Regions from separate parts of the Homo sapiens genome. Here region 1 is linked to region 2. The links come from fine-mapping of genetic effects on gene expression. A gene starts in region 2. The other region holds a variant in brackets. All regions are shown on one strand. Distances are from middle to middle. Region 1 overlaps WDR93 (WD repeat domain 93). Region 2 holds the start of PEX11A (peroxisomal biogenesis factor 11 alpha).

What was found. PIP is the estimated chance that this variant, and not a neighbour inherited with it, causes the effect.
Region 1: its variant is fine-mapped to the expression of PEX11A in Th17 cells (Schmiedel 2018, PIP 0.91).

What each region holds. Positions count from the first base shown.
Region 1 is chr15:89,708,890-89,725,508 of GRCh38, forward strand. It overlaps WDR93 (WD repeat domain 93), which reads left to right. Exons shown (of 17, transcript NM_020212.2): 5 at 3,137-3,215; 6 at 6,091-6,206; 7 at 8,022-8,060; 8 at 13,166-13,250. It also overlaps the pseudogene RNU6-132P. Among named protein-coding and RNA genes, the nearest start is that of WDR93, 26 kb to the left of the region's middle. The variant C/CTT (reference allele first, on the strand shown) is at 8,156.
Region 2 is chr15:89,681,598-89,698,216 of GRCh38, forward strand. PEX11A (peroxisomal biogenesis factor 11 alpha) reads right to left here and starts at 9,157. Exons shown (of 3, transcript NM_003847.3): 1 at 8,980-9,157; 2 at 4,834-4,949; 3 at 1-2,351. The coding sequence starts at 9,035. The coding sequence ends at 1,780. It overlaps WDR93 (WD repeat domain 93), which reads left to right and starts at 9,214. Exons shown (of 17, transcript NM_020212.2): 1 at 9,214-9,260. It also overlaps the pseudogene RPL36AP43. RefSeq lists an enhancer at 8,992-9,081.

The DNA.
Region 1 (16,619 bases), 27 kb after region 2:
CAGAGAGTGTTCCTGAAGGCCAGGCTCAACAGCTGGCCCAGGCATGGGCTTCTAGCCTGTGGCGACCCTGTGGGTACCCACATTATTGTGGTGCACCACTATTGTGGCTGTGACGGCCAGGTGCCCACACTATTGCAGCCGTCCGGTGCAGGGAGAAGTGATGGAGGTACTGATAACCAGGGTGCAGGAGAACAAGGTGGACCAGTGACACAATCCTACACCACAATTCTCCAGGGCCCCTTCTCACCAAAGACAGAGAGGTCAGCAATGAAGAGGAAAAGGAAAATCAAGATGAGACACAAGGTCAACAACTGCAACTTCAGTTACAGATGTAGATGTCCAGAAAATCCTAAACCCCACTGTGGCAGAGACAAAAGCAAGGGATCCACCAGCTGAGAATGCCTTGGATCCTGAGGCTGGGCAGGGTGGGGGTGATTTATTTATTTATTTTTTGCCTGTTAACCAGATAACTAGAACTAATTGCATTATCAGTGCAGCATCTGGTTTTTAAAAAGCCAAACTGCAAACTGCTAATAAAGGCCTTAAATAATAATAAATATAATAAGAAAATGTAAAAACAAGCCAAAGACTGGGAGAAAATACCTGTTTTATATATATATACTTTATATATATTTATATATCCTTCAAAGTATTTGTATCCAGAATATATAAAGAACTCCAAATCAGTAATAAAAAGACAACCCAATAAAAAATAGGCAAAAGACTTAAACTGACATTTACAAAAGGAGACAGTGTTTCGCCATGTTGCCCAGACTGGTCTTGAACTCCTGGACCCAAGCAGTCTTCCCACCTTGGCCTCCCAAAGTGCTGAGATTACAGGTGAGGTAGTTTCTTACAAAGTTAAACCTATGATACATCAAGCCCATTTTTAGGTATTTACCCAAAAGAAATGAAAACATTTGTTCACAAAAAGATTTGTACAAGATGTTCATAGCAGCTGTATTTGTAATAAAAAAAAAAATAATCAAGGCCGGGTACAGTGGCTCCTGCCTGTAATCCCAGTACTGTGGGAGGCTGAGGCGGGCGGATCACGAGGTCAGTAGAACAAGACCATCCTGGCTAACACGGTGAAACCCCGTCTCTACTAAAAATACAAAAAATTAGCCGGGTGTGCTGGCACGCGCCTGTAGTCCCAGCTACTTGGGAGGCTGAGGCAGGAGAATTGCTTGAACCCAGGAGGCGGAGATTGCAGTGAGCTGAGATCGCACCACTGCACTCCAGCTTGGACGACAGAGTGAGACTCCGTCTCAAAACAAAAACAAAAACGAAAACAAAAAAACATAATCAGAGAACAAATAAAAATTTGTGGTAGACTAAGTCAATGGAACACTAATCGGCAATAATAAATAATAAACAACTGATGATTACAACGCAGCAGATGAAACTCAAAAACATCAAGTTGAATGACAGAAGCCAGACACAAAAGAGTAGGTTCTAATTATGAAATTATATGAAACTTAAGAACAGGCGAAATTTATCTGTGTTAGCGATGGAAAGCAGAACATTGGTTGCATATGGAAGTGTAGTTGGCTCAAACAGGCATACGGTAACTTTCTAGGATAATGGTAACGTCCTATACCTTGACAGGGTGTTAGTTACAGGGACGTATAAGTTTGTCAAAACTCATCAAGTTATGCATTTAATACCTGTGCCTTTACCTATATTTAAATTTTATCTTTAAATAAACTCTCCTAAGAAAAAAAAAATACTGGGAATGTCCCGCAACTCATTTTATGAGACCAGCATAACTATGATATTCAAATTATCAGGGATGTTACAAAAAAAGTACTGTTGGTGGATTAAAACACATAAAAATATTTAAAATCCATTAATTCATGATAATATATTTTAAATACTTTATTGTCACAACTTTGGAAGTTGTGAGGGAAGTTTCAGAAACTCAGTATTCTGAAAACTGATAAGGGAAAGAATCAAGCTTTTATTCTGACTTTTTCATATGGGCAACCAATTTCAAGGCAACAAAATGGTTGATGATGGAAAGATCTTCCTTATAGAAGAATTCTAATAAATGCAGAAGGAATGATAGAACTGAGGTATCCTACTTTTGTTGCCTATTACAAAGAATGGTCTAGGCAATAACCACCAATGGCTGATGGGGAAGTTTGTAATAAAGGAGTCAGGATGATAACTGTTCTCAACTGTCAACCTTAACATTACTAAAAGAGAGACAACCAGCTATTATGAGCCTCCTGATATGATGCAGTAGGAAGGACACAGTGCACCTGTGGAGTGTTCTTGCCAAAACATTGAACCTAAACCTAATCAAAGCTGTAGATCTGATTATCAGTTTACAGGAAATACAGGAACCATGGAGATGCAATCAATCCAGTTCACAATGCGAAAAATTCCATAGGACAAATGACACGGTTTCTTCAACAAATAAATGGCAAACAGAAAAACAAATGAGGGAGCTAATATAAATTAAGAGACTTAGGAGATACATTAGGCCGGGCATGGTGGCTCATGCCCCTATAATCCTAGCACTTTGAGAGGCCATCTTGGGAAGATCACTTGCAAGCCAGGAGTTCAAGACCAGCCTGGGCAACAAAGTGAGATTCCGTCTCTCTTAAAATTTTTAAAAATTAGCGAGTCTCAAAAAAAAAAAAAAAAAGATAGCATAACCATTCACATTGAGCCCCTCTGACCTTATCCACAATTTGAGCAGGTTTCATACTAAGGTTACATTCAGTCTCTACCATAGTCTAAATAGAGCCTTTTGTCCAGCAACTACCAGAGTTTTCAGTGTCATGTAGAATTTATTTCCATTTAGTTGAATAATTGGATGCCAGCATAGGCTTTAGGGTTTGCACACCTGACGAGGAGATCCAATAGTATGCCAGATGTCACCAGGAGCATTTAAGAAACCAGGAAATAAGTTCAAAAACCTTACATAGAAAAGCGAGTTCTACTTCTTTACATATCATCTTGTCCAATTCTTGTACAAAAATGGGAAGTATGAAGCAGTTTGAAGCATCTTTTCATGTCCCAAGGTTTAAAAGGATCTCTGTTCCTGGGTGCAGACCACAGAAGGTCCTGAAATACATTCTCTGTCAGCAGGCTATGCCTACTCTATCAACATCTCTTTTGTTTTCAGGATGATACCAGCAAGCAAACTACCTGTATAAAGATGGAGATCTCTCAAGGAGGGGACTTTGCAGCCTTCCTCCTACAAGGCAAGATTAACCAAAGACTGTTAAGGTTCAAATTTTCAGTCTCTTCCAATCTTCCAAATGATTGCTTTTGTCCCTCCAAACCTTTTATTTAGAAATTATTTTCAATTCAAAGAAGAGTTGCAAAGAAATTACAGAGTTCCCTTATGCCCTTCACCCAGCTTCCCTAATATTAATGTTCAACATGGCCACACCACATTTGTCAAAACTAAGCAAATGACATTGGTACAGTACTATTAACTAACTCTTAACTACAGATTTTTTTTTTCGGATTTCACTAGTTTTTCCACTAATCTTTTTTTTTTTTTTTTTTTTTTTGCTCCAAAGTTCAATCTGGGATACCATATTATATTTAGTCATTGTGTCTCCTTAGTCTCCTCCTACCTAGGATGGTTTCTTGGCCTTTCCTCATTTTTCAAGGCCTTAAAGAGTACCAGTCAGGTATTTTGTAGAATGTCCCTCAATTTCAGCTTGTCTGATATTTTTCTCATAATTCAACTGGGGTTAAGGATTTGGGGGAAGATACAACAGAGGTGACAAGCTTTTCTCATTGCATCATATCAAGGGGTACATGATAGCAGCATGACTCACTACTGCTAATACTAACCTTGATCACTTCAAGTGGTGTCCGCCAGGTTTCTCCACTGTAGAGCTACTGTTTTCCCCTTCCCATCCTCTGTAAGGAGCAAGTCACTACATCCAGACCACACTCAAGGGAAAATGATAGAAGTACCACCTCCTGGCCAGGCGCGGTGGCTCACGCCTGTAATTCCAGCACTTTGGGAGGCCAAGGCAGGCGGATCACCTGAGGTCAGGAGTTCAAGACCAGCCTGGCCAACATGGTGAAACCCGTCTCTACTAAAAATACAACAATTAGCCAGACGTGGTGGTGGGCACCTGTAATCCCAGATACTGGGGAGGCTGAGACAGGAAAATCGCTTGAACCTGGGAGGCGGAGTTGCAGTGAGCCGAGATCGTGCCATTGCACTCCAGCCTGGGCAACAAAGAGCGAAACTCCATCTTAAAAAAAAAAAAAAAAAAAAAAAGTATCGTCTCCTGGAGGTAAGAGAATCAAAGAATTTTTGGACATGTGTTAAAACCACCACAGTAATTAATAAACACCTTGAGGGAGATACTTTGAGAGGATGCTGATGTGCTGTTTCTCTTTAATGTTTTACCCACCAATCTCAGCACTCATCATTGGATCTTGCCTGCTGCAGTTATCACTGGGACAATAGAACATATTTTATTCAAATGCTTGTTGCCTTGATTTTTAACCTTTAAATATTTAGATACATGGTATATTGGCCTCTATTTTATACTCTTGTCCAAGCCCCCTCCAATGTCAGGTATTTGAGGAACATATGCATTTTATTTTGTTTTTTTTTTGAGAAGGAGTCTTGCTCTGTCACCCAGGCTGGAGTGCAGTGGCATGATCTCGGCTCACTGTAACCTCTGCTTCCCAGGTTCAAGCGATTCTCCCACCTCAGCCTGCCAAGTAGCTGGGATTACAGGTACCTACAAGCATGCCCGGCTAATTTTTATATTTTTAGTAGAGACGGGGTTTCACCATGTTGGCCAGGCTGGTCTCGAACTCCTGAGCTCAGGTGATCCGCCCGCCTCGGCCTCTGAAAGTGCTAGGATTACAGGCATGAGCCACCACGCCTGGCGAAGGATATGCATTGTATAATGCTTTGTGTATTCAAGGAAACTTGTGCACCATCTGTATTGGTTTCCTGAGCCTGTCATAACAAAGTACCACAAACTGGGCAGCTTAAAACAATAGATATTTATTCCCTCAGAGTCCTAGAGGCCAGAAGTGTGAAATTAAGGTGACCAGAAGATTACTTTTTAAGAAAAAAATTTAGCCAGGATCCCATACCATGGGAGAACAACCTTTCCTAGGTTAACATATATTTGCTATAGAAGCTGAGCATGTTTCTTTGACAAGATAAAGTCCCACAGCCAACCCATGGGTTGTTATCTCCTCAAATATTGGTCAGAAGAATTCTTTAGGTACATCTTTCCCAATTCTAACCCTTCCTCAGACACACTTCTCTCAGTTGCTGATTCTGTATTTGCTGCCCTCCTCCCCAGACAGGTAAAACTGAAGGCAAAATGTCAGTGGATGTGATCACTTCAGCAGCACATATACTAAAACTGGAACGATACAGAGACGATTAGCATGGCCCCTCTGCAAGGATGACACACAAATTCATGAAGCATTTCTTTTTTTTTTTGAGATGGAGTTTCACTCTGTTGCCCAGGCTGGAGTGTAACGGCCTGATCTCGGCTCACTGCAACCTCCACCCACTGGGTTCAAGTGATTCTCCCACCTCAGCCTCCCGAGTAGCTGGGATTACAGGTGTACACATCACCATGCCCGGCTAATTTTTGTATTTTTAGTAGAAATGGGGTTTCACCATGTTGGCCAGGCTGAGAACTCCTGACTGCAGGTGTTCCACCCACCTCAGCCCCACAAAGTGCTGAGATTACAGGCGTGAGCCGCCATGCCCGGCCCCATATTTTTTTTAATGTCAATGGAATTTACCATTTGCAACAAAGAAAATGTGGGGGCTGGGCAGAACAATTTGGTTAAAAAGCTGTTGCATGAGTGCTGTTAGTGTGAGAAGCCCCTGTTTCTCTTAGATAGGTGGTGGTGGGTTGAGGGGATAACTCTCCATGGGAAAGTTATGTGGGGCATGAGGACTTGCAATAACCATTGCAGAACTACTTCTCCTTCAGTATGTCAAAGTTGCCTGGTATGGAGGTGGCTGGTCTCTTTGCCAGCAGTTCTAAGAAGAAGACAGGCCATTTCTCAGAGGAAACTTGTGGCTCTCTTACAGTTGCTCAATGGTTCTCTGGTTTCCCAATGCAGGAGCCGGAGATATTTGGCTGGATGTGTATAAATTGCCCAAGGAGACTTGGCTCAAGAAACTAGAGCACCCCCAACTCACTTCAAATCCAAAGAAAAAAGTCAGACAGCCGCAACTGGTAGGAAATATCTCTGCTTTCAGCTGATATGTTTCTCCCTACCCCTGACCCACATCTAGCCCAAGTCCTTGGAAACTTATGGTGAATGAGGCCTCTGGGCTATAAGAGAGGACAACAGGAATATTGGCCCCTGTCTCCCAAGTCAATTTCCTTTGGTTAAAATAAGATATTAAAAAGTAGAGGTGTCTTCAGTAGTGGGAATCGCAGTATCTCTAGTCTGGGAGTTGCCTCTCCACTGAGACCACTCCCAGGCATTTCTCTGGAAGGAGGGTCTTTTGTCCTGACTCCTGCTTCACTGGTAATCTTTTTTTCCCTCCTGGCTGAAATAATCTTTTCATGCCTCAAATTCCATTAAATTTTTCCAGACTATGGTATAAAGAGGTTGTTCTCAATATACAGAAATATATATATATTTTCTATTATCCTTAGAAAGTAGAAACTCTACCATTTCAGTTTATTTATATATGATGACTGGGCCTTGTGCTGTTTTTTTGTTTTTGTTTTTGTTTTTTGAGTCTCGCTCTGTTGCCCAGGCTGGAATGCAGTGGTGCGATCTCTGCTCACTGCAACCTCTGCCTCCCGGGTTCAAGCAATTCTCTTGCCTCAGCCTCCTGAGTAGCTGGGACTACAGGTGCACGCTGCCATGCCAGGCTAATTTTTTTGTATTTTTAGTAGAGACGGGGTTTCACTGTGTTAGCCAGGATGGTCTCAATCTCCTGACCTCGTGATGTGCCCGCCTCGGCCTCCCAAAGTGCTGGGATTACAGGCATGAGCCATCGCACCCGGCCTGTGCTATGTTTTTAAGATATAGTTGCTCAGTAAATATTAAGACTTAATTTGCTTATTTATACAGTGTATGCTTATTATTTTTACTTTTAAACCACCAACATTAATATATTAATATTAACTGAGCATCCCTTTAAAATACATTGTATTAGGTGCTAAATAAATTAGTGAAATTATTAATATAGGAGACCAAGATTGAGAGTTACATTCACTGCTGAGCTCAAGTGGCTTTGAATAAATGCCTTTATGGCCAGTGAATATCTTCATAATGGAGTGTAGTCCTATGTCCCTGGGAAAGTTACTAGCCCAGAGATATTCCTCCTCTAAGCTATTACAGAATGTTATTATTTGTATGTATTTTTTGACACTTCTCACATACTGCCTAGGTTTGTAGTTATCCTGTTATACATGAAAATCCTCTTGTCTTCAATGGATAATAAATTTCTAGATTGTTAAGATCATACCTTCTGCTTTTTATCAACAAATTCCATAGTATCATACTTGGTACTCAAAAAGATATATTTTTGTTTGGACTAATTTGTTATCCAAATAGGAAAAGCACCTTGAATGGGGTGGTTTCTCACCATAATTCACTTCTTTTTCATACACTGAGAAGCAGCCAATGAATGCCAGTTACAGTGGTAGTTCTTTTACTACGAATTATATTTAGAGTTACTTAAATGTAATTCTCAACATCACCAATATGTTTTGCCAATCAGAAATATTTGCCTCAATTTGGATTCTTGTAATGGTGTTCTGACTGATCTCCTCAACTCTATTCATTCAGATTTCCTCTTGTTATTAACTATTTCCTGTTTCCCCACCTACCTTTTAAGATCCTGAAAAATAGGGATCGTGTGTTGAAGTTCTGCAGGCCAGAGGCCCACACAAATACTGGCCCTCCACATCTGTTGCATGAATTCACTCACAAGAGTAATTGAGGGGAAGAGAGAGCATGCCAGAAGATTAAAGGGGGTGGTAAACATACATCAAACCTATTGTGAATTAATTTCTCATTTTTCTTCTCAGAACTCCCTTGGTCCCATTTCTGCAGATCCTTTAGAAATGGTAAGAAACTTTAAAGAAAATCTCCAGAGAGACTTAAGTTTGTATTTTAGAGATTTTTTAAAAATTATTATTTTTCTTTTCTTTTCTTTTTCTTT[C/CTT]TTTTTTTTTTTTTTTTTTTTTTGAGACAGAGTTTCATTCTTGTTGCTCTTGTTGCTCAGGCTGGAGTGCAATGGAGCGATCTTGGCTCATCGCAACTTCTGCCCCCCAGGTTCAAGTGATTCTCCTGCCTCAGCCTCCTGAGTAACTAGGATTATAGGCATGCACTACCACGCCCGGCTAATATTGTATTTTTAGTAGAGACAGGGTTTTCTCCATGTTGGTCAGGCTGGTCTTCAACTCCCGACCTCAGGTGATCTGCCTGCCTTGGCCTCCCAAAGTGCTGGGATTATAGGCGTGAGTCACCACACTGGGCCCAAGATTTTGATTTTTACTTGAAATTTACCCTAAATGTCAAATATGCTAATGAAATGTTCCACCTGGGCACTATTTTCAATTCTCAGTGACTTAATCTTGTGCCTCATATCCATTGAAGATGACCTCCCGTCCCTGAGGACAGTTGACCCAAGTCATTTGGCCAGACGTGGGTTTACCTGAAGTTAAGGGAGCTTAAATTTCAGGGCCCCTCACTTGGGCCCCTGGAAGGGGCCCTAGCAATGTGTTCATATGGTTATATATTTTTGTAAAATTAGCAAAGGTAACATATTGTAACCATAATCACTTAATTCCACTACCTCTTCACTCTAGCTTTCCTCTGTCACAATTTCCTCCATATTAGATGGAATTACAGTGGCCATGGGCATTTTGTGTTCATAGTTCTGTCTTCTTTTTCTTAAAAGAGGGTCCTATGAATCCTGGATTTGCCTCTACCAAAATAACAGCCCAATTCACCAAGCCGAGTAACTTGGGGGTTTTGTGTTTGTTTTGGAATACCTTAGAGAACAGAGCAGTTTCCCTGGAGCTTCCTGGCTCTTCCTCTGAGACCAGGAACATACCATGTCTTCAGAAAGCATGGCTCTTGGAGGACTCAGGCGTGTCAGTAGAGTAGTGGTGAACTTCTGAAGTGGAAGTATCTCGCTAGAGCCCCTTCTTTTTTCCCTTTCAAAGTTACATTAGGCCAGGTGGGGTGGCTCATGTCTGTAATCCCAACACTTTGGGAGCCTAAGGCAGGAGGATCTCTTGAGCTCAGGAATTTGAGACCAGCCTGGGCAACACAGCAAAACCTTGCCTCTACAAAAAATACAAAAAATGGCCGGGTGCAGTGGCTCACGCCTGTAATCCCAACACTTTGGGAGGCCGAGACAGGTGGATCACGAGGTCAGGAGTTTGAGACCAGCCTGACCAACATGGTGAAACCCCATCTCTACTAAAAATACAAAAATTAGCCGGATGTGGTGGCGTGTGCCTGTAATCTCAGCTACTCAGGAGGCTGAGGCAGGAGACTCGCTTGAACCCGGGAGGCGGAGGTTGCAGTGAGCCGAGATCACACCACTGCACTCCAGCCTGGGAGACAGCTGTCTAAAAAAAAAAAAAAATTAGCCAGGTGTAGTGGCATGTGGCTGTGGTCCCAGCTACTCAAAAGACTGAGGTGGGTGGATGGCTTGAGCCCTGGAGTGGAGGCTGCAGTGAGTCGAGATTACACCACTGTACTCTAGCCTGAGTGACAGAGCAAGACCCTGTCTCACAAAAAATAATAAAAATAAAAATAGTTATATTTCACATTGTACAAATAATATATGAATATATCACTCTTGGAAAAGTCAAGGAATTCAGATAAACAGCCCTCTCCAGAGGTAATCACCATTATTAGCTTGACATGTTTTTTTGTTTGTTTGTTTGTTTTGTATTTTTAGTAGAGACAGGGTTTCACTATGTTGGCCAGGCTAGTCTCGAACGCCTGACCTCAGGTCATCCACCCGCTTTGGCCTCCCAAAGTGCTGGGATTACAGGCATGAGCCACCGCGCCCAGCCCCAGTTGATGTGTGTTTTCTAGATCTTTAGTGTGTATTTACATCTTACGTTTATTTTGAAAAATACAGTTTTGTTTCATGGAATTTTTTTTCTACATAAGTGGCATCATACTGTATATATTTTCTTATAAACTTGCATTTTTTTACTCATCAATTTGTTTGCACATTTTTTTCTTTTTCTTTTTTCATTTTGAAACAGGGGCTCACTCTGTCACTCAGGCTGGAATGTAATGGCATGATCATGGCTCACTGCAGCCTCAACCTCCTGGGCTCAAGCAGTCCTCTCACCTCAGCTTCCCAAATAGCTAAGACTACAGTTGTGTGCTGCTATGCTTGTCTAATTTTTAAAAATTTTTATAGAAAAACATGTTGCTCAGGCTGGGCATTATTTCTTCTTAAAATGTTAGGTAGACTTTACTAATGTGTCCATCTAGTCCTGGAGCTTTCTTTGTGGAACTACAAATTCAACTCCTTTAATAGATAAAGCACTATTCAGGTTATCTATTTCTTCTTGAGCAAGCTTTTGTACCTTGTGTCTTTCGAGTAATTTGTCCATTTTGTCTAAGTTGTCAAATTTATTGGCTTAAAGTGGTTCATAACATTCCATTATTATCCCTTCATTGTCTTTAAAATCTATTGTGATGTCATCCCTCTCATTCCTGATATTGGTAATTTGTGTCTTCTCTCTTTTTTTCTTAATCAGTTTGGCTAAAGGTTTGTCAATTTTATTCATCTTCTCAAAAGAACAATATTTTAGTTTCATATATTTTTCCCTATTGTTTTTCTGTTTTCTATCTCACTGATTTCCAGTTTGTTTTTATTATTTCCTTTGTTCTGCTCACTTTGGGTTTAGTTTCCTCTTCTAATTTCTTTCTTTCTTTTTCTTCTTTTTTTCTTTTTTTTTTGAGATGGAATCTCGCTCTGTCACCCAGGCTGGAGTGCACTGGCATGATCTTGGCTCACTGCAACCTCCGTCTCCCAGGTTCAAGCAATTCTCTGCCTCAGCCTCCCGAGTAGCTGGGATTACAGGTGCCTGCCACCACGCCTGGCTAATTTTTGTATTTTTAGTAGAGACGGGGTCTCACCATCTTGGCCAGGCTGGTCTTGAACTCCTGACCTCGTGATCCCACCTGCCTCAGCCTCCCAAAGTGTTGGGATTATAGGCCTGAGCACTGGGCCCAGCTCCTCTTCTAGTTTCTTAAGGTAGAAGCTCAAATCATTGAGATCGTCTTTTCTGATATAGGCATTTAATGCTATACACTTGTATCTAAGTACTGCTTTAAAATTTGATTTTTTTATTTTCATTCATTTCAAAGTACTTTATAATTTGCTTTTGTATTTCTTCTTTGACTAGTAGGTTTTTATTTTTTTATTTTTGAGAGAGAGTCTCATTCTGTTGCTCAGACTGGAGTGCAGTGGTGCAATCTTGGCTCACTGCAACCTCTGCCTCCCGGGTTCAAGCAATTCTCCTGCCTCAGCCTCCCAAGTAGCTGGGATTACAGGCACATGTCACCATGCCCAGCTAATTTTTGTATTTTTAGTAGAGATGGGGTTTCACCATATTGGTCAGGCTGGTCTTGAACTCCTGACCTCGTGATTCGCCCGCCTCGACCTCCCAAAGTGCTGGAATTATAGGCGTGAGCCACTGCACCCAGCCGACTAGTAGATTTTTAGAAGTATGTTATTTAGTGTCCAAATATTGGAAATGTTACAGCTGGCTTTTTTTATGGGCTTCTCATAAAATCCGTTGTGATCAGAAAATCCATTGCGATCAGAAAACATACTTTATATATTTGAATCATTTTAAGTTTATTTAGATTTGTTTTATTCCCACAATGTGGATTATATTGGTAAGTGTTTATATGTACTTGAAAAGGATGTTTGAAGACCAATAAAGCTGTTATTGGTCAGGCTATTCAAGTTTTTCTCCTTTCTGTTTTTCCTTTTATATCCTTACTATATTCTTACTGATTTTCTGTTTACTTATTCTGTACTTATTGAAAAAGGAGTCTCTAAGATTGTAGATTTATCTTTTTCTTCTTTCACTCTTACGAATTTTTGCTTCGTGTATTTTGAAGCTTTGTAATTAGATGCTTAACAATTTGGAATGTTTTGTCTTCAGATGAATTGATTGTTTTGTCATTATTCACTGACCCTTTGATTCCTGATAATATTCTCTGTTCAGAATTCTTCTATGTCAAATACTAATATGGCCACCCAAGCTTTCTTTTGATTCATTTTAGCAAGATATATCTTTTTCTGTACTTTTATTCTTAACATGTTTGTGTCATTATATTTAATATAACGAGTTTCTTCTTTTTCCCTATGGTTTCAGATAGTGTTTCATAAAATGAGTTTCTTGGCCACATGTGGTGGCTCACACCTGTAATCCCATTACTTTGGGAGGCAGAAGCAGGAGGATCACAGGAGCCCAGGAGTTCAAGATCATCCTGAGCAGCATGGCGAGACCTCATCTCTGCAAAACTAAATTAGCCAGGTGTGGTAGTGCACACCTGTGAGATCCCAGCTATTCAGAAGGCTGAGGTGGGAGGATTGCTTAAGCTCAGGAGGTCGCTCCTGCAGTGAGCTGTGATTGTTCCACTACACTGCAGCCTGGGTGACAGAGCAAAATCCTGTCTCTCACACACACACGCACACACAAAGTTTCTTTTTGACCTCATATAGTTGGGTCTTGCCCTTTCTAAAAAAACTGTTTCAAAGATGGGCTCTCGCTATGTTGCCCAGGCTGGAATGCAGTGGCTATTCACAGGCACAGTCATAGCACATTGCCACCTCAAACTCCTGGCCTCAAGCGTTCTTCCCACTTCAGCCTCCAGAGTAGCTGGGACTACAAGTGTGTCACCATGCCCAGTAAGGGTCTAGCCTTTTTATAGAGTCTGACAATCTCTGCCTTTTCACTGGGGTTATTTAGACCATATACATTTAATGTGATTATTTATATGTTTGGGTTTAAATCTACAGTCTTGCTATTTACTTTTACAATCTTGCTATTTACTTTCTATTTGTCCTCTTATTTTTCTTTTTCCCCTTCTTTTCCACCTTCTTTTAAAATTAGTATTTTTAATTATTCTATTTCCTCTCTTCTCTTGGCTTATTAACTATGCCTTTTCCTTGTTTTAGGATGCAAATGTTAGTTTTAAAGGAGACATTAAATTGAGTCTTCCAGTTTACATAATGAAGATCAAACCACCTAAGCCTGTTACAGGTAAGTGTGATTCAAATCTCTCTCCTTTTGCCATTGATTTATCTGTTCTTTCTTCCTTTCCCCATGTCTTATCTTTTCAACTTATTAGCAACGATATCAAAATTACAAACATAGTTATGAAGAGGAAATTTTTTTTAAACCCATAAGCTCTGAGACATTAAAACAAAAAATGTAAGTAATGCATTTGTATTACATACAGTTAACTAACAGAATTGGAAGGTCAGGAGAAAAAGATATCTTTTCTGAATTGCCAGGTTGAGTTCATTTATTCCTACATTTCTGTGCTGATTCATTTGACTGCTAGTTGTAATACATTCATTCCTACATTCTTGTGTTAATTTATTCATTATTATTTGCTGAATGCCCATAATGCACCAAGCACAAAGATGAGTAAAACACCTCTCCTCTCCTGCACTCTAGAAGTTGATAGTCTACTAAGGGAGAATGACAAGAAACCACCATAGTAGGATGTGATAAGTACAGCAATGGGGACCATCAAGGGCTGTGAAAACTCAGGGTAAGAAGCGACTGACTTGCTAGGGAGTAAGGGACATTTGGGCACAGTTTCAAAGAAAGGGACTTGGTCAAGAGGAGCAGAGAGGCTAGCTATTGTAGGCGGCAAATACAGAGGATATCCTCTCAGCATTCACACATGATCACAAAGACATATCTATAAGAATGTTCACCCCTGGTGGACTAGTAGTTACGATTAAAAAAAAAAACCAGAAAAATGTTTACGGTAGCATTATGTACAGAGGTGAATAATTGGTTAAATAAAATCTGGGCCGTGTGCGGCGGCTCGTGCCTATAATCCTAGCACTTTGGGAGGCCAAGGTGGGCAGATTGCTTGAGCTCAGGAGTTCAAGACCAGCTTGGGGAACATGGCAAAACCCCACCTCCACAAAAAATACAAAAATTAGGCAGAGTGGCATGCACCTGTGGTCCTGACTACTTGGGAGGCTAAGGCAGTAGAATCGCTTGAGCCCAGGAAGCAGAGGTTGCAGTGAGCTGAGATTGTGCCATTGCACTCCAGTCTGGGAGATGGGAGTGAAACCGCGTCATAAATAAATAAATAAATAAATAAATAAATAAATAAATAAATCTGGTACACTCATACAAAAGAATACTTTGCAACCATTAAAAAAACAAAAGAGAGGCCAAGTGTGGTGGCTTAAGCCTATAACCCTAGCACTTTGAGAGGCCAAAGGAGGAGGATCACTTGAGCCTAGGAAGTTGAGGCTGTAGTGAGCTATGATCACACCACTACACTCCAGCCTGGTGACAGAACAAGACCCTGGTTCAAAATCAAGAACAACCCCCCGAAAAGGGAAATGCCAAAGGCGAAGAATAGACAATTTTCTCTTGTAAAAGAATGTGGTGGTCAGACTTGCTCTATCAATATTTATTATAAAGCTGCAGTTATTAAGATAAAAAATAGATAAGTGAATAATAGAAATATAGATGAAATATAGAAATATAGATAGATAGAAATAGCAGATAGAAAAATAGAGGAAAAATAGGTGAATGAAGCAGGATACAGAGACCAAAACAGACCCAGGCATAAATGGACACTTGATGCATTACAGAGGCAGCGCTATGGAGCTCTGGAGAAAGGGTGGCCATTTCAATAAGTGGTGGTGGCTGTTTATGTGGAGACAAAAATAAAACTTAACCCCTGCCTCATGTCGTACACAAAACTAAATTCCAGATGAACTGTAGAAGTAAATATATGAAAGGCAAAGCAGTAAAGCTTTTAGAAAATAAATATACTCTTCAGGCCCGGTGCAGTGGCTTATGTCTGTAATCCCAGCACTTTGGGAGGTCGAGGCAAGTGGATCACTTGAAGCTAGGAGTTCAAGACCAGCCTGGCCAACATGGCGAAACCCCGTCTGTACTAGAAATACCAAAAAAAAATAGCTGGGCGTGATGGCGTGCACCTGTAGTTCCAGCACTTTGGGAGGCTGAGGCAGGCAGATTGCTTGTGAGCTCAGGAGTTCGAGACCATCCTGGGCAACATGGAGAAACCCCATCTCCACAAAAAAAAATACAAAAATTAGCTAGGCATGGTGGCCTGTGCCTGTAGTCCCAGCTACTTGGGAGGTTAAAGCGGGAGAATTGCTTGAACCTGGGAGGCAGAAGTTGCAGTGAGCTGAAATCGCACCATTGCACTCCTGCCTGGGCGACACAGCGAGCGAGAACCTGTCTCAAAAAAAAGAAAAAGAAAATAATATAAACAATAACTTTATCACCTCTGGGTAGGGAAAGACTTTTCAAATAAGACACAAAAAGTACTTACAATTTTTAAAAATTGAATAAATTTGACTACATTAAAATTAGGAATTTCAGATCATTCAAAGACATCATTAAGAGGATGAAAGATCAGGCCACATAGAGGTAGAAGTTATTTGCAAAACACATAAAACCCACTAATGGTTCATGTCCAGAATATATGAAGAATTACTACAGATTCTTAAGAAAAAGAGGGAGAATCCAGTACAAAACATGCAAGAGTATTGCACAGGCTATTCACAAAAAAAAGATTATTTAAATGACCAATAAACATGAAAAGGTGCTCACCATCATTAGTCTGCAGGGAAGTGCAAATTAAAATCACAGTGAAGTAGCGTAACACATTCACTAGGATGGGTAAAATTAAAAAGACTGACCACACCAAGTGATGGTGAAGATGTGGAACAATCAGTACTCCCATACATTGCATTTAGCAATGAAAACTGGTACAACCACTTTGGAAAATGTGTTTGCTATTATCTAGTAAAGCTGACAATAATTTGTGTCCTATGACACAGTATTTACACTGCTAGGTGATAGGGTGACCAACCATACCAGTTTGCCTGACTGAGGGGTTTCCTGGGATGTGAGATTTTTCAGTGCTAAAACTAGGAAACTCCTAAGCAAGCCATTTTGAGTTAGTCACCCTACTTCTAGGAATGTACCCATAGATTTGCAAGCAAGTGTGTTCCAGGAAACATGTGCATGAATGGTGATAGTGACATGATTTTTAATAGCCCCAAACACAAAGCAACTAAATTTTCATCAGTAGTAGAACAGATAAATTGTACTATATTTATTCAGTGGGATACTATACAGCAATGAAAAATGAACAAACTGCAGCTACACACAGCAAAATGGATAAATCTCATGAACAATATTGAGCAAAAGAGGACAGCCATAGAGTTAATACTGCATGGTTCCCCTTATGTACAGTTTAGAATCAGGCAAAATGAAACTATGGTGTTGAGGACGCATGTTTAGGTGATAAAAGCATAAATAAATGCAATGAAGTGGCTACCATAAAGGTCAGGAGAGTGGTTGCCACTCTTCCCAGAGAATTGTGATTAGAAAGGGGCC
Region 2 (16,619 bases):
TAGTTATTTAAGCTTTTTATTTTCCCTGACCTAGTAGCTTTCATGTCTCTTAAAATTCCCTAAATTTTATTTCTCAAATCCCATATCGTGATTGGTTAAACAGACAGCCAAGAATCTGAGTCTATTTTTTGAGAATCTCAATCACATTTCTGGGAAATGTGACTTATTGAGTACATATTTATTTTCTCATTTCCATTCAGATAAATGACACAGCTTTGCTGGGAGGACTGACATCGGCCTCCTACCTGCTGGCATCCTATTTCTCTACCTCACCTCCCTCAAACTAAAGGATCTGTAACCACATATAAAGACCCACACCCAAGATGGCAGATAGGAACACAAGTCAATGTCATTGACTCAGCATTCCATTGTCCTCTTCACTGGCTTCCTCCTGCGCTTTCCACCTCCCTCAATCACCCTAGAAATAAGATGTCTGATTTATCGTAGAAAATTGTGACTCTCTTACATCTGGAGTATTCATGAAATTTTTTTGACTGGATAAATTTTGATGAAAATTAATGTAGAATTGCCTAAATTGTTAGAAGGATTTAAATAAAACAATCTAACTGATAAGTCTAAATACTGTCTTAATTTTTTTTTAAGACACAGGGTCTTGCTCTATCACCCGGGCTGGAGTGCGGTGGAAGCTCACTGCAGCCTTGAACTCCTGGGCTCAAGTGATCCTCCTGCTTCAGCCTCCAGAGTATCTGGGACTACAGGCATACTCCACCATGCCTGGCTAATTTTTTAACACTTTGTTGTAGAGAAGGAGTCTCACTACATTGCCCAGGCTGGTCTTGAACTCCTGGCCTCAAGCAATCCTTCCGCTTCAGCCTCCCAAAGTGCTGGGATTATAGGTGTGAGCCACCACACTCCACCCAGTTTTAGTTTTTCTAGAAAAGAATATAAACCACTGGACAAGGAAATTTCCAAATTATGGGAGAGTAAGAGGCAAAAAACAGGATTCAGGAGGGGATCACATTTCTACTCAATTCTGAAGACAGTGGGAGAGCATGGAGAGAACACTGGATTAGGAGTCAGAGGAATGAGGCTCTAGCCTCAGTTTTTTGTTTGTCTCACTGTCAGCTTCTTATCTGTCACAGGCTACATATAGGCACCCATTGTGACCCTGTACCTATTTTTATAAGTCCCTCCGGTCTGCTTCTGATTTTTGCTTATTCACTGCACCCATAGACACAATTTATACCATGAAGGTGCCTGATGCTTTTCTGATTCTACTTCTGCACAGAGCAAGGACATGAGTGCAGTGATGGTATAAGGGCCAACAAGTTGAGAGGCTGTAAGCCCAGCTCTCCTCCATCCTGCTACTGACATCAGAGCCTCTACTAGATCTGAGAGTGCCATGCACCAGACCTACTGTAATCGTGAAACCAATGATCCATATGACCCTAAAGTTATTGTATACTGGTGTTCAATGATCAGTGCGATTGGGTCTTTTTAAATTTTTTCCTTTCAATTTTTATTCATTCAGCAAATACTAAGCTCCCACTATGCACATAAGAGATGTTCAATCAATGTTAGATGAAGGGAAAATATTCAGAAATTCACAAGTCACTCCAGCACTCCAAAAACATACAACTCTTCATGCTCCTCCCTTCTCCGTTCTTGGCCTCATCTCTGCCCACATCACAGGTTGTTAAATGCTCACATGAACAAGAACTTAAGCACAGTATGACATGGCCTGTGACTTATACAAATGTCTGTCCCACCAAGAGGCCATCTTTTAAAGTAGGTACTAGTTCCAAGCCTAAAAACACCCTAACGGGTCTTCAGCTTCATCTGAGGATATGCCACAGTGATCATGCCTGCTATAGAGGACACAAGACCTCCAAGTCCAATGATGCCAGGATTGGATTTATAGATCCCCAGCTGGTCCAAAGGGTTCAGGATATCACAAAGGTTCTTCACTGTGTCCAGGAGCAAGGGAGGATGCTGCTTCAGAGATCGGAATAAAAGAAGTAGAAAGGATTGGAGCCATTCTGTTTCCTCCTCAGCCACGCTGAACCAAAGAGGATCCTGGGATGCTGATTTCTCTTTCTTTGCCCTGTCACATGTAACTCGTTTCATCTGCAGGGAGATTTCATACAGATCCCTGACCAGGCTCAGCAGAAGAGAATAGTAGTAGTGGTGAGCAGCCCTCGTTCGCCATTTCTCTTTGTTGATGCCAGAGGTGAGACCTACGCTCCTCACCCAGAGGATGGTGTCACAGATGAAATAAATCACACGGTTCAGGTTGGCTAATGTTAAGCATAAGCGAGGTACCAGGTCAGTGGCATGAATGCTCTGCTCAGTTGCCTGTATAGCATGTACCACATTGCCTAGTCTGAACCCTGCAAGTAGAACCCACAATAGTGAACAGTTATTTCATTAGTACACAACAGGAAGATAGAATCCCTGTATCAGGGTGAGGAGCCAGCTTTTTGTTGTTTTTTGTTGAGACAGGGTCTTGCTCTGTCACACCGGCTGGAGTGCAGCGGCACCATCACAGCTCACAGCAGCCTCAGTCTCCTGGGCTCAAGCAATCCTCCCACCTCAGCCTCCCGAGTAGCTGGGATTATAGGCACGAGCCAGTGTGCCCAGCTTAGCACTGGTCTTTTTAACAACTGATGGTCATTAAAGGCTCAGCCTTTGTTCAGAAAAAGAGAAAGATTTTACAGTACATTAAGGACACCTAAAGTGATCTTGGAAGGCAAAAAATACAGTGACTCTTTAAATTTACCTCCTCCATTGTAATGAACACCTTAATGTTGACTGACGGCATACTCCAGGCAAGGTCAATCATGAGTGTGGACTGTTACATTTGATTATTTACCAGCTACACTTCTTTAGAAGGAAGGTACTATGATAACATGAACTCCAGATGCAATACTCTCTTGGAGAGTCTGATGCCTTGCATTTTATTTATTTTCCAGACAAAAGACTGTCTTTTTAAAAAACACTATTATCATTTTGCCATTTCTCTGGTCCAAACCCCTTTTGGCTACCTATTGTCAAGAAGATAAAGTAGAAATGGTAGAATTTAATGGATAGAACAATTAATAATATTGTCACAGAGCTCCTAGTTGAATTAAATCAACCATTGCAATGGCACGTCCTTATGTGAGCACGTAATTCAATTAATCAGGGATGCATCAATCAATAGGTACTTACTGAACACCTTCTGAGAAAGAGTTATAGTACTAAATGTCACGGAGGATACAAAAGAAGTACTTTTCCTTGAAGGATCATACCTTAGACTCAGGAGGTGCTCAGAAGTAGCTACTCTCAGAAAACTTATAATCTCAGAAGGGGCTGGGCGCGGTGGCTTACGCCTGTAATCCCAGCACTTTGGGAGGCCAAGGTGCACGGATCACCTGAGGTTAGGAGTTTGAGACCAGCCTGGCCAACGTGGTGAAACCCCGTCTCTACTAAAAAAAATAAAAAATAAAAACAAACATTAGCCAGGCATATTGGCGCATGCCTGTAGTCCCAGCTACTAGGGAGACTGAAGTGGGAGAATTGCTTGAACCTGGGAAGCGGAGGTTGCAGTGAGCCAAGATCATGCCACTGCACTCCAGCCTGGGCAACAGAGTGAGACTCCATCTCAAAAAAAAAAAAAAAAAAAAAAAAGAATGTTTTGTATTATGTTATCAAAAATAACATAAAATAGTAAAATAGTATATGTAATGACTATTTTAGTATATAGATTCTGGGTTCCAGTTCTGGCCCTTGCACTAACTGGCTGAATGACCCTGGATAAGCCCCTTCTGGACTTACAGACTAGTGACCTCTAAAGGACCTTTCAGCTCCAACATTCTAAATAATCTAAATAGAATTTCTAATCTTGGCCTTCAGTGCCATCCAGAAAAGCTCGCCCTACCCTTCCCATCCCTCTGCTTGACAATTTAAATCTGTCAAACTAGTTTTGTAGTTTGACAATGATCCTCCCATACAATGGTTTACTCAGTTCTGAGCCTTTATTAGAGAAAACTGCCCTTCGAAACTCTCTTCTTCCTTCTCTCTAGCCTCACCTCAAGTTCCACCTCCTCTAAAACACCTTTCTTTTCCTCTACCTCAGCCAACAAGTTTGGCACTAAATCTTATATATCATTATTTAAAGCACCTTACTTCTCCCATAAGGCTCAGGAATGTACCTATATAACATAGGTGCTCAAAACCAACTGATCAATATGTGATGCTCTACATTCCATTCTAATGCCTCTGCTAACCTACTATAGCAACATCTGGTTTTCATCAAACAACAAAGACTCAGAAAGGCAATTGCTATGAAAAGTACTGGATTTCCCAGTATGACATATTATTAAAGTAAATTTAATAAACACAAAATATTGATTTCACTTTTTACCTTTGGCATGAAACCTACCTCAAACATGGTCTACAAAAATGTATCCACCTATATATCCTCTAGCACTCCTCAATAAAGGAAAAAGGCAGGTGGTCTAGGATATAACTATTCCACTCTTGTTTAGAATAAAGGGGCTCACAGGAGCAGAAGCTCATGTCAGAGACTGCTAAAACATACTATGATTCTAAGAACTAAAGGTGAACTAACACGTTGTCTGTCTCACTGGTTATGATTCAGCAGAAAGATAAGGTGTAGCACCAGATGTGAACATAAGAGGGTGTTTATGAATGGTCTGCAGCAACACATTCAAACCTGTTGTGCCATGAGGACAGCCTTACTGGTCAATTTCACCAATAAACTTGATTGACTAGAAATTAATGACCTAGAAATTACTCCGTGAATTACAGGGTCTGAGGCTGAGGATTCTAAACCAGGAGTCACTGTCCCTCAAGAAACAGGGTACTTACATTTACGACCAGTGCTCACACTGGACTCCAGTTTCTTGAGCTTCATTACCACCTTCTCTTTGCCAGCTTTGGGCTCTAACAAATATCTAAGCAACATGCATGTGTACTGAGTGGCTCTGAAATGGAAAAAAAAAAATTGAGAAGAATGATTTACAAACCAAATAAAACTTAATTCAGGAAGTAAGGGAAAGAGAAACACATGCCTCCAGACAACATTTCCAAGACCATTTCTCATGTAGCAACTCTTACAAAAGCAAAATTCTGCAACAGTCATTCTACAGGAGAGCCAAAGGGTAGAACATGTCATGGAAATTTAACACAAAGGTAATGAAAACAAATTCTGCAATAATGCAGCCAATGTGCCTCCAAAAGGCCTTTTGCTGGCACAGAGAAATGGATATAGTCAAAGTGAGAAACTGTACAAAATCTCCCTCATGTTAAGTCTACAAAGATCCATATTCCTTCTCTTCCCCAGTGTAGATTTCTTTCTTTGTTTTTTTTTTGTTTGTTTTTGATCGAGTCTCGCTCTTTCGCCAGGCTGGAGTGCTGTGGTGTGATCTTGGCTCCACTGCAACCTCTGCCTCCCTGGTTCAAGCGATTCTCCTGTCTCAGCCTCCCGAGTAGCTGGGATTACAGGTGTGTGCCACCACGCCCAGCTAATTTTTGTATTTTTAATAGACACGGGGTTGTGCCATTTTGGTCATGGCTGGTCTCGATCTCCTGACCTCGTGATCTGCCCTACTCAACCTCCCAAAGTGCTGGGATTGCAGGCATAAGCTACTGTGCCTGGCCTGATTTTCAGATTTCTAAAATGAACTTTTCTACCATGTACTTAACCTACCATCTATGTGACAGGACACAAACTCAAACCAGAACCAAATGAAAAGTCCACAGTTTAAAGATTGTTTAATTTTTTATAAACGAAAGGACCAAATACACATCAGTACATAAATTAGTATAAATATGTTTTCATAGTTGTCTTTCAAAACTTATTCGTATTTTACATAAAATACAGGCAGAATCCTGCTTAATAATACTATATATTTAATAAAGTGATTATTGTCATGCTTACAAATAACAATGACTTACTAATATAAATGTAGGAGAAATTTTACATCACATAGTCACACATCCAAATCCATTTGGCAATCTACTAATAAAGTAGGTGCCTGGTTCCTACTGTCTTGTAAGTGCATTTGAATCCCTTTATGCTATAAATATTATTCTCAATAAAAATGCGGTACATTTTCATTTTCTAAAATAGTGAACTTGTTACTAGGAATGAAATAAAAAGAGAAGACTGGAATCATAAACAATCGCTTTCTCTTTTTTAAGTGTCCTTCCTGGTTACAGGACTGGTCATGTCAATGATTCTGCCTTTCTGAGCTTTGGTCTAATAATAAGGATCAGGCCAACAGTAAGACATTACTTTTATTTATTTATTTTTGAAGTGAACATAAACTCGATTTTATTGTCTTCATAATAAAACAAAAGATGATACTTAGAACTGGATCACTTGGCCCTTTCTCTTCTTATCTCCTCCCAGTTCAAAATGCTGGCATCTTTTAATAGCCAGGATTCTCTTAGATCTTCACTGGGCTCAACACACTCAAGCTTTAGCACAAACTTCTTGGTAGTTTTAGACTTTTTCTGGAAAATCGGCTTAGTCTGCCCACCACAGCCACTCTGCTTCCTGTCATAATGCTGCTTTCCCTGGGCATACAGAGAATCCTTGCTCTTCTTGTACTATGTCACTTTGTGGGGTTGGTGCTTGCCACACTTCTTACAGTCTGACAGGTTTTAGGAATGTTCACCGTGTTTGCATGAGCATTATTGGCACAGAAAGCAAGGTATTATTTTATGAATGCCAGTGTGGTCATAAAGGTTATACAGATCATCAAGGAGGTTGGGAAATGAATGCTAGAGATCTCAGATCTTTTGGAATAAACATATCTTAAATTATTATTATTATTATTTTTCGAGACAGAGTCTCGCTCTGTTGCCCAGGCTGGAGGGTAGTGGTGCGTTCTTGGCTCTCTGCAAACTCCGCCTCCCGGATTCAAGCGATTCTCCTGCCTCAGCCTCCTGAGTAGCTGGGATTACAGGCATGTGCCATCACGCCCAGCTAATTTTTGCATATTTAGTAGAGATGGGGTTTCACCATGTTGGCCAGGCTGGTCCCGAACTCCTGACCTCATGATCTGCCCACCTCAGCCTCCCAAAGTGCTGGGACTACAGGTGTGAGTCACTGAACCCGGCCTAAATGATGATGATTATTATTTTTAATGTTTTTATTTTTTTTTTAGAAGGAGTCTCGCTCTGTTGCCCAGGCTGGAGTGCAGTGGCGTGATCTTGGCTCACTGCAAGCTTTGCCTCCTGGGCTCATGCCATTCTCCTGCCTCAGCCTCCTGAGTAGCTGGGACTGCAGGCGCCCACCACAACGCCCAGCTAATTTTTGTATTTTTAGTAGAGACAGGGTTTCACCATGTTAGCCAGGATGGTCTCGATCTCCTGACTTTGTGATCCGCCCACCTCAGCCTCCCAAAGTGCTGGGATTACAGGTGTAAGCCACTGCACCCGGCCTAAATGATTATTTTTTTAACCAACTTCCTTGATAAACCCTGCAGGGTACATTCTAGGTACACTGGAATTACAGGTTTCTATTTAATGAAATTTCTATTTAATGAAGCTTGTATATAAAGTAACCATTTAAAAAACCTATCAAACTAATGAGAAAGCCAGTATAGCTTGGTAGTTAAGTGGGCACTGGAGTCATTTGCGTGGATGTGAATCCCTCAGTTCTGCCATTGTAGTACCTATTAACCTCTTTCTGCTTCAGTTTCTCCATCTGAAGTGGGTAAAATATTTAGAGTATCTACCTCATAGGGTTGTGATGAGGGTTATATAAGTTCATAGTTGCAAAACACTGGGAACAATAGCTGTCATAAAGATGGCTTCCAAAAGCCTCATTATTGGGGCCATTCTAATTGATCTGTTTGTATCAGCACTTGCACACCCAGAAGAGAATGCAGAGCTGTTAAATAAAACTGCAACTGTAAATATTTTTTCATTAAGCAAGAATCAACCAAATCTCTAAAACATCATGAACTAGTACTGTATTCGTATTAAAGATACAATCTCTCAGTTCTTTTCGTTTCTTATGGAACCAAAAGAAAAAGAGACACAATCTCTGTTTAATATTTTCAGTAGCACAGCATGAACCTTAGAGGTGCAGTTAGTTCTTTCTGAGCTTCTCCCCACTGTATTTCCCCCCAATCCAGTTGGTGTGGTCTCATCCCCGCTATATTTTGTTTTACAATTTACAAAACTATTCCACATGCAGTATCTCAATGATACAGCCTGGGTAATAATGGAAGAGAACTTCTGTCTCTCCTCAAACATTTCAAGAGGTATTTGAGACCGGGCGCGGTGGCTCGCACCTGTAATCCCAGCACTTTGGGAAGCCGAGGTGGACAGATCACCTGAGGTCAGGAGTTCGAGACCAGCCTGGCCAACATGGCGAAACCCCCGTCTCTACTAAAAATACAAAAAGTAGCCGGGCGTGGTAGTGCACGCCTGTAATCCCAGCTACTCAGGAGGCTGAGGCAGGAGAATCGCTTGAACCCGGGAGGCAGAGGTTGCAGTGGGCCGAGACCGCGCCACTGCCTGGGCGACAGAGCGAGACTCCGTCTCAAAAGAAAAAAAAAAGAGAGATATTTGAAGTCACACCAAGTGGTTTGCTTCCCTAGCCACAAATACTAATCCAAAGTTTCTCTTTAAAGGAGATCCCTCGGAAGAATGTTGAGTGGAGAGAACCAATCTTTCTGTGCCCGGAGAGCAAAGTTAGGAGGGGAGGAGGATCTGTCAGCCGGTGTCCCGTCGTCGGCGGTCTCGAGGCGGCTAGGGTGCCAGGCACTGGGGCTTTCGTGCACGGGGCTAGGACGGGACGCGGGTGCGTTGGGCCCACTCACGTTGAATTTAGGGTAAGGAGGGGCTCGGATACTAAACTCCCTCCGTAGGAGCTGGCAACGTCCTTCCTGCTTCCATCTACTAGGCTATCACCTCCTTTTTCCCGGGTGCAGGGGAATAGGCACGGGAGCCGAGTTAGGGCGAGAAAGGGGCGGAGGCCGCTGGCACCTGACTCACCTGAAGAGTCGGTCCCGGCCCTGGGTCTGGTTGGTGAAGCGGGTGAAGGCGTCCATGGCTTCTAGCCCAAAGGCCACGAGTCGCACGGGGCTCAGGCGTGGGTCCTCTGGGGCCCGTCGGATCCCCAGGGAACGGTCAGTCCCAGGTTATCCGCTGAGGGGGAGGGGCTGAGTCTCTCCGCCCCAGAGGGGGCGGGCACACTTTCTGTAGAGCAACTTCGCGGACTTCCGGTTCAAGCCGGAAGTTGTGGTTACCAAGGCGACGCAACGCCGCCCGGCCAGGTGAGCAAAACTGATCTTACCTTTGGATGCCGGGGCTCCCCTCGAGTCCCAGGACTCCCCTTTACCTGTAGAGTCTCCTAGAGGAAAGTCTGAGGGGGTCCGTCTCCCCAGACTCGGGCGTTTCCGGATGCCTGACGCCTCCCCGCAGATCTCAGGTTCTCAGGAACCCGGGGTGATATCCCGAATGGTCTCTCCAGCCTCAGAACTCCCCTGAGCTCTTGCTTGGGACGGTGGGGCCTAATCATTTCCCAGCGCCGTGCCTCTTTCCCTTGAGCTACACCAGCTCTATGTCTGGTGAAGGAAGTGGTTAGGTCAGAGATAAGCCAATTTCACAGTGTGAACCTAGCATGGGAGGCGGATGAAGTGAGAAAATGTTCTGCTTGGATTATTGAACATTGAAAGAAGATTGTTACCTGAGGAAATCCTAAAAGAGTCATTATGAGCAAAGTGAAGCAAAAATAGATTGCAATGAAATTGCACCGCTGAACATTCGTTCTGTGCGGCTTGAAGAAAAGGAGCCTTACCCACTCCGTGGCAGTAATTTTATAAAATGTACCCTCTATAACCACAAAATAAGGTCGGCCGGTGCTGTGGCTTACGCCTGTAATCCCAACACTTTGGGAGCCGAGGTGGGCGGATCACCTGCGATCAGGAGTTGGAGACCAGCCTGGCCAACAGGGTGAAACCCCGTCTCTACTAAAAATACAAAAAAAGTAGCCGGGCGTGGTGGTGGGCGCCTGTAATCCCAGCTACTCGGGAGGCTGAGGCAGGAGAATCGCTGGAACCCAGGAGGCGGAGGTGGCAGTGAGCCGAGATTGTGCCACTGCTTTCCAGCCTGGGCGACAGAGCGAGACGCTGTCTCAAAAAAATAAAATAAAATAAAATAAGGTGAACATTTTCGTAATCTTTATTCCCTTGGTCAGGCCAGCTCCTAACATTTGCAGGCCCTGGGTAAGAGTACAAATGGAGTCCAGCACACCGTATGTTTAAATATTTTAGTTATAAATCAAGCAACAAATTGTAAAGTAAAATATAGTCTGTTTTCCTACATTGACAAATAGACCCTCATAATGATGTAGAAGGCCAGGTTCATCTTCAGAATCCCTAGACTCCTTAGAATACCTGGAAACACAGCTGGAATATGGCAGTGTGGGGAGAAATGGCTCCCAGTCTTTTCCCACTTCCCTTTCTTTTCTGGTTTCTGGTGCCCACCTGCATTCCCTGCCAGGAGCCTTGTATACCATCCTGATACTCCAAGCCACATCCAACGTCTGCCCGTACCTCTGCAAGCAGCCATGCCTTTGCCACCTTTTCAGATCGAGGAGTGCTCACATTAGCAGCTGGGTCTGCCCTCAGGTGAAAGCTGAGAAGGGCTCATGCAGGCCATGGTGTCATTTGGGCAGTAAATTCCAGGGGTATTGGTACCCTGAACATGGTCTAGACTCCAGAAGAGGGAAACTAGGCTTTGGGTGAGCATATCTCCTTGGCCCCATGGGTTACTCATTTTTTGTAGAGGAAAGAGCCTCGAAGAGAGCCAGAAGTTTTCTCTAAATACGTGGCCCAGGTCAGGGCAATTCTGCAAGCAATGAGAATTTATTGAGTCCTGGCCATATACCAACCACTGTGCTAAACTCTAGTCGTAGGGTAATAGGTTAACAAGGAACACAGTAAACTGATAAGTACAACACAGAGATATGTTAGATGATAGAGGTGAGCACAGGGTGCTTCTAAACACAGATGTGTATCATCTGTTTTTTGTTTTTGTTTTTGAGACAGAGTTTTGCTCTTATTGCCCAGGCTGGAGTGCAATGGCGCAATGTCAGCTCACTGCACCCTTCGTCTCCCGGGTTCAAGCGATTCTCCTGCTTCAGCCTCCTGAGCTGGGATTACAGGCATGCGCCACCACGCATGGCTGATTTTTTATATTTTTAGTAGAGATGGTGTTTCACCATGCTGGTCAGGCTGGTCTGGAACTCCTGACCTCAGGTGATCCACCTACCTCGAGCTCCCAAAGTTCTGGGATTACAGGTGTGAGCCACCACGCCTGGCCTCATCTGTTTTTTATACCTACAATTCTGCCTTTTTCACAATATCATATAAATTGAATCATATAGTATGTAGCGTTTTCTTTTCTTTTCTGATTTATTTTACTTAGCATAATGCATTTGAGATTATCTATGTTGTGCACATCAGTAGTTTGTAATTTTTTATTCCACAATGTGAATGTATTATAATTCATTATCCATTCACCCACTGAAGTACATTTGTGTTGTCTCTAATTTGAAGCCATTATAAATAAAGCTGCTATAAATATTTAAGTACAGATTTTGATGTGAAACATAAGTTTTAATTTTCCTACTGTAATATGCAGGAATGTGATTGCTGAAACATATGGTATGTTTAACTTTGTAAGAAACTGCCAAACTGTTTTCCAAAGTGGCTATCCTATTTTGTATTACCACTGACAATGCGTGAGAGCTTATCTGTTTGCCTGTTGGTGGACATTGGGTTGTTTCCACTTTGGGGCTCCTACAAATAAAGTTGTAATGACTGTTCGTGTACAAGTCTTTGTATGGACATATGTTTTCAGTTCCCTTCTACCACTCCTAAGAGTGGAATGACTGGATATGATGGTAGATAATGTGTTTAACTGTCCTGCAGGGGACAGGCCTATGCAAACCTACCCCTAAAAGTCTGAGAAAGCTGAGAGGCCAAAGCAAGAGGCTGACATACCCAGTTTCTCAGAAACAAACATTTAATAAATAAATACAATTTAAACAAACAAACAGAAGCCATGTCTCAGGAGCAAGACAAGATGGTGGATCCCTGCCATTATCCACCAGACCCAGGGTTTCTGTGCTATAGAGAAAGGTGCTTCAGAAGGAATGTGTAAGATAATTGCTTAAGGACAGAATTTATGGCAAGAATGATAACATCAAGGTTGTTTTGACCTAAGGGCAATATTTACAGTAAGTGGTGCTCTTACACAAGGAATGAGTCAAATGGAAATCTTAGAGGTTTTTCTGGAACTGGGGATAATCAGAAGTTAACATGGAGGATTAGCATCTAAGATGGAGTTGCTTTGGCCTCCACATTAGCGTTTTAAGAAATTGCCAAACTGTTTTCCAAACCAGTTGTACTATTTTGGTTTCCCAATAGTGTGTATGAGCATTCTTATTGTACATCTTCAACAACACTTTCATGGTCTATCTTTTTAACTTTAGGCATTTTAATATACGTGTAGTGGTATCTCATGATTTTAATTTGCATTTCACAAATGACTAATGATGCTGAACATCTTTTTATGAGTCTATCTGCCATCTGTATATCTTCTTTGGTTAAGTATCTGTACAAATTTTTTGCACATATTTAAAAATTGTTGGGTTATTTCTTTTTTTTTTTTTTTTTTTTGAGATGGAGTCTCGCTCTGTCGCCCAGGCTGGAGTGCAGTGGCACGATCTCGGCTCACTGGTTTCACACCATTCTCCTGCCTCAGCCCCCCGAGTAGCTGGGACTACAGGTGCCCACCGCCATGCCCAGCTAATTTTTTGTATTTTTTAGTAGACATGGGGTTTCACCATGTTACCCAGGATGGTCTCGCTCTCCTGACCTCATGATCTGCCCGCCTTGGCCTCCCAAAGTGCTGGGATTACAGGCGTGAGCCACTGCACCCGGCCGGGTTACTTCTTTTATTACTGAGTTTTGAGAGTTTTAAAAATACTCTGGACAAAAGTACTTTATCAGATAAGTGACTTGCACATATATTTTCTCCCCATCTGAGGATTACCTTTTATTCTCTTAACAGTGTGTTTTGAAGAAACACAAGTTTATTTTTGAAAAGGTTTAAATGACCAGTTTGTTCTTTTTAGGTTATACTTTAATGTCATATCTAGGAAATCTTTGTCTAAGAGAAGATTGCCAAAGTTTTCTTCTAGAAGTTTTATAGTTTTCAGTTTTACATTTAGGTGTATGATTTTACTTTGAGTTAATTTTTGCATATGGTGCAAGGTATGGATCGGCATTCATTTTTTTCCTATATAGATATCTAATTGCTCCAGCATTATTTGCTGAAAAGAATATCCTTTTTCCACCGAATTGTCTTTGTGCTTGTGTCAAAAATAAGTTCTCCATATATGTTTGCATCTAATTTAGGACTCCCTATTTGATTTCATTGATCTGTTTGTTTATTTTGATACCAATACCACACTGTCTTGAATATTGTAACTTTGTGATAAGTCTTGAAATTAAGTAGTGTTAGTCCTCCAATTATGAGTTGTAAAGTTAGCTTCTTAATTTCTGGAAAAAAAAAAGCCACCTGGGATTATCATAGGGATTGTGTTGAATTTGTACATGAATTTGAAAAGAATTGACATTTTAACAAAATTGAGTCTTCCAACTCATAAATAAGGTATCACACTCTCCATTTATTTAGGTCTTCTTTAATTTCTGTCAGCAATATTTTATAGTTTTCAGTATGTGGGTGGGTGTTTTTTAGAGAGGGAGTTTCGCTGTATTGCCCAAACTGGAGTGCAGCAACATGATCATAGCTCACTGCAACCTTGAACTCCTGGACTCAAAGCAATCCTCTCACCTCAGCCTGCTGAGCTGCTAGAATTACAGGTGCAAGCCACCTTGCCTAGCCCAGGATACAGGTTTTATATATCTTTTGTCAGATTTATCCCTAAGTAGTTCATGTTTTTGATACTGTTGTAAATGGTATTTTTATTTCAATGTTTGGTTTGTTATTGCCAGTACATAGAAATACAATCAGTTTTTGTATATTGAACTTGTATCTTACCACCTTGCTCTCCTCATTTATTAGTTCTAGAAAATGTTTTTGTAGATTTCCTCAGATTTCCTATATAAGCATATCATCTGGAGATAAAGACAGCTTTATGTTTTTCTTTCCACTGATGAAGTAGTTCCATCACTCCAAAAAACTCCCTCATGCTGTCCTTTTTTTTTTTTTTTTTTTTTGAGACAGAGCCTCACTCCGTCACCCAGGCTGGAGTGCAATGGCACAATCTCAGCTCACTGCAACCTTTGCCTCCCAGATTCAAGCGATTATTGGTCCTCAGCCTCCTGAGTAGCTGGAATTACAGGCACACACCACCACACCCAGCTTATTTTTGTATTTTTAGTAGAGGTGGGGTTTTGCCATGTTGCCCAGGCTGGTCTTGAACTCCTGACCTCAAGTGATTCACCCGCCTTGGCCCCCCAAAGTGCTGAGATTACAGACATGAGCCACCATGCCCAGCCATGCTGTCCTTTTTGAATAACACCCTTCCCTGCTTATAACTCTTGACAAACACTGATCTGTTCCCCATTACTCAGTTTGCATTTTTGAGAATGCTGTATAAATGGAATTGGACTGCATATAAATTTTGAGACTGTTTTCTTTCACTCATCATAATGTCTTTGAGATTCATCCATGTTGTTGTGTGGATCAGTAGTTTTTTGCTTTTTATTACTGATTAGTATTCTATTATATGGATATACCACAGTTTGTTTATCCATTGATAAACCTGTTGAAGGACATTTGGATTGTTTCCCATTTTTGACAATTATAAGTAGAGCTGTCATAAACATTTGTGTAGAGGTTTTTGTGTGAACTTACATTGGTGGTGGTGGTGGTGGTGGTGGTTGTTTTTGTTTGAGACAGGGCCTCACTCTGTCACGTAGGCTGGAGTACAGTGGTGTGATCATGGCTCACTGCAGCCTTGACCTCCCTGGCTAAAGCAATCCTCCCACCTCAGCCTCCCAAGTAGCTAGGACTACAGGTGCACATCACCACACCCAGCTAATTTTTGTATTTTTTGTATAGATGAGGTTTTGCCATTTTGCCCAGGTTGGTCTTGAACTCCGGGGCTCAAGCAATCTGCCTGCCTTGGCCTCCCAAAGTGCTCGGATGATAGGTTAGTTTTAATACTCCTAGGGTAGATACTCAGGAATGGGATTGCTGGGTCATATGGTAAATATATGTTTAACTTTATAAGACACTGTCAAATCCTTTCTCAGAGTGGCTGTCCTGTTCAGCATTTTCAACAGCAATGTATGGGAGTCCAGTTGCTCTGCATCTTCACCAGTGCTTAGTATTGTCAGTTTGTTTGTTTGTTTGTTTGTTTTTTAGAGACAAAGTCTCACTCTGTTACTCAGGCTGTAGTGCAGTGGCATGATCACAGCTCACTACAGCCTTGACCTCCCTGGCTCAAGCAATCCTCCTACCTCACCTGGGACTGAGGTGCACGCCACCCCCACCCCAGTGGTTTTTTAAAATTCCTTGTAGAGATGGGGTCTCACTGTGTTGCTTAGACTGGTGTCAGACTCCTGGCCTCAAGCAATCTTCCCACCTTGGCCTCCCAAAGTGCTTGGATTACAGGCATGAGCTGCCACACCTGGCACTATTTTTTTTATTTTAGCCATTCTAATATGTATGTAAAATATTTTAAACATATATTTACCATATGACCCAGCAATCCCATTCCTGAGTATCTACCCTAGGAGCATTAAAACTATTAAAAGTGATCCATGGGTTATTAAGAAGCGTGTTAGTTTCCTAATATTTTGAGGTCTTGTATACATTGAACCATCGAAATTTCTGTTATTGATTTCTAAAATAATTCTGTTGCAGTCAGAGAACATACTTTGTATTATTTAAGTTCTTTCAAACTTAGTAAGAGTTGGTTTATGGCCTGGAATATGGTTTGTCTTGGTAAATGTTTCATGTGCACTTAAAAATAATTTGCAATCTGCTGTTTTGGGTAGAGCGTTCTGTAACTGTCAATTGGAAAAAATTACTTAATAGTGTTATTGAAGTTTTCTGTATCCTCACAGATTTTTCTGTTTATGTGTTCTATAATTTATTGAGAAGAGGGTATTGAAATCTCTGACTATAATTGTGGATCTTCCTGTTTCTCATTAAATTCTATCCATTTTTACTTTGTGTATTTTGAAGCTCTGTTATTAGGTGCATAAACATTTAGGACTTTTATACCCACTTGATCAATTGACACTTTTATAATTTTTTTTTTTTTTTTTTTGAGACGGAGTCTCTCTCTGTCGCCCAGGCTGGAGTGCAGTGGTGCAATCTCGGCTCACTGCAAGCTCCGCCTCCTGGGTTCACGCCATTCTCCTGCCTCAGCCTCCCAAGTAGCTGGGACTACAGGCGCCTACCACCACGCCCGGCTGATTTTTTTTTTTGTAATTTTAGTAGGGACAGGGTCTCACCGTGTTAGCCAGGATGGTCTCGATCTTCTGACCTCGTGATCCGCCCGTCTCAGCCTCCCAAAGTGCTGGGATTATAGGCATGAACCACTGCACCCGGCCCACTTTTATCATTATTAAATGAACTTCTTTATC